Linked DNA regions of Homo sapiens: region 2 is reported to be linked to region 1. Evidence: microRNA targets listed by miRTarBase, many of them from high-throughput screens and not tested one by one. Region 1 holds a microRNA gene; the other region holds the end of a gene's coding sequence.
The links. The annotated mature microRNA hsa-miR-6765-5p reads GUGAGGCGGGGCCAGGAGGGUGUGU and lies in region 1 at 1,868-1,892, opposite strand. An mRNA with a match to its seed (bases 2 to 7 or 8) in the 3' UTR can be bound and repressed. Matches are read on the target gene's strand: a 7mer-m8 pairs with bases 2 to 8, a 7mer-A1 pairs with bases 2 to 7 and ends in A, and an 8mer does both.

Region 2: the mRNA of KLHL32 is a reported target of hsa-miR-6765-5p. Seed matches in the 3' UTR shown: 7mer-A1 at 1,437-1,443.

Annotation. Positions count from the first base shown.
Region 1 is chr14:105,148,973-105,152,123 of GRCh38, forward strand. It overlaps MIR6765 (microRNA 6765), which reads right to left and starts at 1,892; the gene lies at 1,806-1,892. It overlaps JAG2 (jagged canonical Notch ligand 2), which reads right to left. Exons shown (of 26, transcript NM_002226.5): 7 at 2,966-3,085; 8 at 2,654-2,767; 9 at 2,311-2,424; 10 at 2,019-2,132; 11 at 1,893-1,939; 12 at 1,632-1,805; 13 at 198-348; 14 at 1-117.
Region 2 is chr6:97,138,786-97,141,785 of GRCh38, forward strand. It overlaps KLHL32 (kelch like family member 32), which reads left to right. Exons shown (of 11, transcript NM_052904.4): 11 at 336-1,968. The coding sequence ends at 497. Among named protein-coding and RNA genes, the nearest start is that of MMS22L, 140 kb to the right of the region's middle.

The DNA of each region.
Region 1 (3,151 bases):
AGATGCAGGAAAAGTTGCCCCCTGGCTGGCTGACGCAGCGTCCATGGGGGCCACACACGCCGGAGGCTGCTGTGCCAGGCATCCCAGGCCCCGCGTCTGACCCGCAGCCATCGATCACTATGGCAGGCAGTACAGTCAGGAGTCAGGCCCGCCCCTGCCCCACCACCTCCCCCACCACCCCATGCCGCACCCAGCACCTCTGCAGGCCCCGCCAGGGCACGGCTCGCGGGGCACGGAGCAGTTCTTGCCACCAAAGTCATCAGGGCAGGCGCAGTAATAGTCACCCTCCAGGTTATAGCAGCGAGCGCCGTTCCGGCAGGGGCTTGGCTCACAAAGGTCGACATCCACCTGCAGGGTGGGGGGTGCCTGTGAGAGCCTAGGCCCAGGCCCAGGCCGGGAACACAGGCCAGGCCTCTGTCCATACGAAGGTAGATCCCTGGGGACCCCCAGGCCCCTCCGCCCTGGGCCTAACAGTGCCAGCCAGAGCCCAAGACCCCTGCCCACCTGAGACTGCCCAGGCCTTAGCTGAACGCAGATACCTGTGGGCCCCCACCCCCACCTCCACTGCAGCCCAGCTTCCTCACTGTCCCTCGGGAGGAGTGTGGCCTTGGCCCCTGCTGCTGGCAGGAAGGACAGCTCCTGAGCCCCTCACACACTGCCTGGCCACCCTCAGAGCCAAGACTGTGGGTCTTTTCCAGGGCCAGCCACTGCCATGCTTGCAGGTCCTGAGGTCAGACCCCTGCCCTGGGCCCCAAGAAGCCCTCTGGACAGGAGGCCCATCCTCTGCACCAAGGCCAGGGCAGGATCGTGGGCGGCCGAGGGTGGTAGGGAGGTGGGTGGGGGGAGGCAGGGAAAAAGGGGAAGTAAGGGGAGGGGGTGGTAGGGAGGCAGGTAATGGGGAGGCAGGGTTGGGGGAGGTGGGGAAGGGGGTGGTAGGGAGGTGGGTGGGGGGAGGCAGGGTTGGGGGAGGTGGGGAAGGGGGTGGTAGGGAGGTGGGTGGGGGGAGGCAGGGTTGGGGGAGGTAGGGGAGGGGTGATAGTGAGGTGGGTGGGGGGAGGCAGGGTTGGGGGAGGTGGGGAAGGGGGAGGTGGGGAAGGGGGTGGTAGGGGTGGTGGGGAAGGGGGAAGGCAGGTTACTTTGGAGGCAGGGGGGAAGGGGAGGTTGGGGGAGGGGGTCCAGTACCAACAGATGGTCAGAGGGAGGCGAGAGCATCAGCCCTGAGAGAGATGCCCACTCCGACCCAGGACTCACCTATGACAGGTGTATACCTCTCCACCATCAGGCACCCACCCTACCCCATGTGCTCTGCCCACCAGAGCCCCCTGCCCTCCAGTCCCGAGGGAGTGCACAGATGGACAGATAGGCCTGGGCAGCCAGCAGCCCGGGGGCTCCTAGCCCAGGCCACCAGGAAACCCATCACAACAAGCAATGGCCACAGGGGGCCAAGCCTGGTGACCTGTGACAGCCCCGCCTGCCCACCTGGCACCCAGTGGAGAGCTGAGCCTGGGACGCCTTGGGGACAACTTCCCCTGCAGCACCCCTGGGTCACTCAGGCCCCATGGTCAGGGGACGAGGCCTGCCCTACAGCTCCCAGAGCAGCAGGTGGGGCAGGGTGACCAGGCAGACCTCACCTCACAGAGAGGCCCGGAGAAGCCCTGGGGGCAGTGGCAGTGGAAGCCGTCGGCCAGGTCCTCGCAGAGGCCGCCGCTGTGGCAGGGGCTGCTGGCACACTCGTCTCGTTCCAGCTCGCAATGCCGGCCTCCGAAGCCCCGTGGGCACACACACTGGTACCCGTTCACCAGGTCCTGGGCGGGCCAGCCAGGTGAGCGTCCCGCAGGCACCCTGACGGCCCCGCAGCACCCACGCCACACACCCTCCTGGCCCCGCCTCACCTTGCAGGTGCCCCCATGCTGACACTGCCCGCGACAGTCGTTGACGTCTGGGGGCAGAGGAGCAGGGTCAGAGGCGGGGTCCCATGTGCCTCGGCCCACCCGCCGGCGCCCACCCCCCATACTGACTGATATGGCAGTTGATGCCCTTCCAGCCCGGGATGCAATCACAGTAATAGCCGCCAATCAGGTTTTTGCAAGAAAAAGCGTTAAGGCATGGCTTCCCTTCACACTCATTGGCGTCTGTGAAAGAGACAAGGTGGGAGCCGTGGGGCTCGGGCCCTGCCTGCCCCCTGCAGCACGGGCACCTGGCACCCGCAGCCCAGCAGCCCCAGCAGCCCCAGCAGCCCCCGCAGCCCCAGCAGCCCCCGCAGCCCGCATGCGCGGCCCACGTTCCCATGCACTCGCTCGGAGCCCTTACCCAGCTGGCAGGTGGCCCCCACCCACTGCTCGGGGCAGATGCACTCAAAGCCGTCCACCTGGTCCACACAGGTGCCACCGGCCGCACACGGGTTCGAAGCACACTCATCGATGTCTGCAGAGGGTGGAGAAAGGTGGGGCCCTGGCAGTGTGAGCCGTGGGAATAAGGTCCCCATGGGCAGGTGGCGCTGCAAGCCTGGGTCTTCCTGCCATTTGTCCTCGCCAAGCCAGCCGCAGCCACACGTGTGGACTTGACCACTGCACCCCATCCCCAGCGAGTTGCCCCACTCCCAGACCCCCACTGATACTAGGCAGGAGTCCCCTACTCACGTGCAGACACTCACCAAGGGCACAGGTGGGCCCGCTCCAGCCCGATGGGCAGTGGCATTCGAAGCCGGACGGCACCTCATGGCAAGAGCCCCCGTTGGCACACGGGTTGGAGGTGCAGGCGTGCTCAGCTGTAGAACCGCGGGGAGGGGGCAGAGCTGGCAGCCAGGCCCCCAGCTTTCCACAAGCACTCCTCCCCAAGCCCACAGGTTCCCAAGCTGGGGGTCAGGGGCCCACCACACAGGACGCCAGAGGGATGGGGCCTGACCGGCTCCCCAGGGAACCAGTCCCTGCCTGGCCAGAATTTGGGTGGCCAGCCCCCCACGTACCCTTCTCACAGTTCCTGCCCGAGTAGCCGTCAGGGCAGGTGCAGCGGTACTGGTCAGGCTCGGCGTTGATGCACGTGCCTCCGTTGGTGCAGGGGTGGTGGCTGCCACAGTAGTTCAGGTCTGGGGGCAGGGGTGGGATGCTCAGGGGAAAAGCCGGCCCCCCGCTCCCCCACAACCCACACTTCG
Region 2 (3,000 bases), not on the chromosome of region 1:
CTGCCTACTAACTAGTTTGGGCAAGTTATTTAACTTGTCTAAGGCAGTTTTCTTAAATGAAGTAATGCTACCTACCTCATAATTGTTCTGAAGATTAAATGCTTATAAATATACATGTATGTATATATGTACATCCAAAAACATACTAACATAGTGTAGCATTTAGTAGGAGCTTAATAAATATTTCTAGTACCATCCAAGCAAGAAAAAGAATTCCTAAGATATGGTGATGGTGACATAACTGAATTTAAGTTCAGAATTTCTTTTATGTATACATAGCTTTATTTTGAGCAGTCATCTTTGATACACAAGCTTCTTCTCTTCCTCTTTTGTAGGTACTGGATGTAAGCAGAGAAGGCAAAGAAGAAGTATTCTATGGGCCTACACTCCCTTTTGCTTCCAATGGAATAGCAGCATGCTTCCTTCCAGCTCCATATTTTACATGCCCTAACCTTCAAACTCTTCAAGTGCCTCATCACAGGATTGGCACCATCTGAAAAGCCAAGCCATCATGAACAGGAGGAAAACATAGCTCTGACTGTTGGATACTGGGCATGAAAAGACTCAGTGCTCCATGCTTCCTTGTCTTGCTTTATAGGTCTTATATTCGGATAAATTTAAGCAAAAAATGAACAATTTTCTAAAATACGTTATTGAAAACTCGTCACCCTTCTCAGTGTATGTCAACATTCAATATGTATGACTTTTATTGTGGTATAGCTTAGTGCCAATTTAAGGTATATTGTGTTCCATGGGTCTTTAGAGCATTCTTTGTACACTTTTTCTAATCAGCACTGTCTTAAGACAACATAACACTGTTAGTAAGGCAATTTATTGGACACAATGGCATCGATGATCTTAAAAATATATATATTCTGTACTTAATCCCTTTATTATTTAAAGCCGGGCTTGTAATTTTTCTTTTTAAAATTTAACATTATGCAGCCCTGCTCAGTAGAGACTCACTCAGCATTATGACATCATAAATTTTTAAATGCCATATTTTATTCAAGGTGATACGAATAATAATAGACATACACTGGAACAGCAGTTGTTGAAATACCCAGATTTTTCACCTTGGTTACTCTGACCTTGGGTCAGAACCTAACTTTACAGTGCTTCAGTTTTCCCACCTTTTAAGGAGGATAATTACTGATTTCCACGTTAATTTAAAAGAACATTATGAGGATTAGGCGAACACTTTGTAATACTTTGCCCAAGAAAAAGAAAAATGTTGTTACTGAAATTATAAGGTATTTTATTGTCTTTAGAACCTTGTAATTGAACAGGGAGATTATTTTTGAAGTTTAAAAATTACTAGATAGAATTTGGAAACATGTTGTGGAATAAATGATTCTAAAAAGCATGTGAAAGAGACACACAATGAGGAAATAGGGAGTTTCTCAAAATCTAAACTTGTACAGGTATCTAAACTTGCCTCAAGTAACTCTCAGATGTCTTATTTAAAATCATTTAGTGAAAAATGACATTTAAAGCTAAAAAATAATTTAGTTGTACTAATTATGGTACCATAAAGTGCTTTGACATAAATTTGAACCTAGAATTGGCAGTTCTAATAAAAGTTTTTCCACTTTGTTAAAGGTTATGTCAATCTTGAGTGCTTGTGGAATTCTTCACCACCAATACATATTTTATTACTATCTCTTTTAATAATGCATAGGAATTCTTTTTTAGACTAGTTTTTGGGTTTGCTTTGTCTATAACAAAAAATAAATACAACAACTTAATAATCACATTTGAAAACAAATTTAACAAGTATAATGTGAGTTTTTCTTTTTTCCTAACTTCCTCAGGACCTAGGTCACCTTTATTAAAAGGAAGAATTCACTCTTTTTTCCTTGGCAGTTTAATCATTCAGGAATCCCTCTCTTAAAGGAAATTGTTATTTTATTCATGTAACCTTTTTTTGTAATCAAAAGTGAATAAAAACGATCTTTTTGTCTTACAGAATTCACTAACTTCATATATCGTTATACACAAAACATTGAAAATACATAAAACATTGAATATATGGCTTCTGGTTATTCAGATTTAAAGGGCAGGAAAGGGGACTAGGGAGAAGGAAAACAGGTAAATTTTAAAAAGAATAGGAATTTAGTATAGACAAACCTTAAGAGTATTTGGACAGTTCTGAACAGTGAAAATTGATATTGACAATTGATATTTACAATGAAGACAGCTTCTTTAAATGGTTTAAGCCATCTAAACTAAATTTTAAAAATGCCTTACCAAGGCAGGAAAATGAACTCCAGTATTTCAGAAAACTTTTCAACAAGGACTTAAGTATTCAGCTATATTAATTTTTCTACTTGGGACATGAATTTTCTCTCTAGCAGTTTTACCTAGTAAAACTATTAAAATCTATTTGTATTCCCAGGCCCTACATCCAACCAATGAAAGGGAAAAGCTCTAAAAATAAGCTTGCCCAACTAATAATAGCCTGAAAGGTAGCCTGAAACTACCCTTATTTCTGTATATATTTCTAACAATTCATATAAAACAAATCAGCATATATTAAACCCCTCCTAAGTGATCTTTATAATGTAATATTCATTAATATTACAGAACTGAACTCAGAATTTTAAAAAGTTTTACCAGGTTCAGACACATCCTTTACAGCTATAGCCAAGAGTAGTACAAAAACATAACATCTCTTCCCTAAAAGGGAAAAAACCTAGATAACTTATAATTAGATCCTTTTATTCAAGGTTATCAATAATAGAAATAAGAATTCTATTAAACTATGGTCATATGAGCCAAATTTCACTGAAACTATTCAAATATACATTTTCGATTTAAGTGAACTACACTATAGTAATTCATCTTCCATTTCCATTTTTACTCTTCAAAATTAAAGGCTATATTGTATTTGTAATGTAAATTATTATACTAATGTGAATTTCTATAGGAAGGTCATGAGACTTGCAAACATTTAAATATCACTTCAATATTTTACTTTAAAAGAGGAAACAAAACACA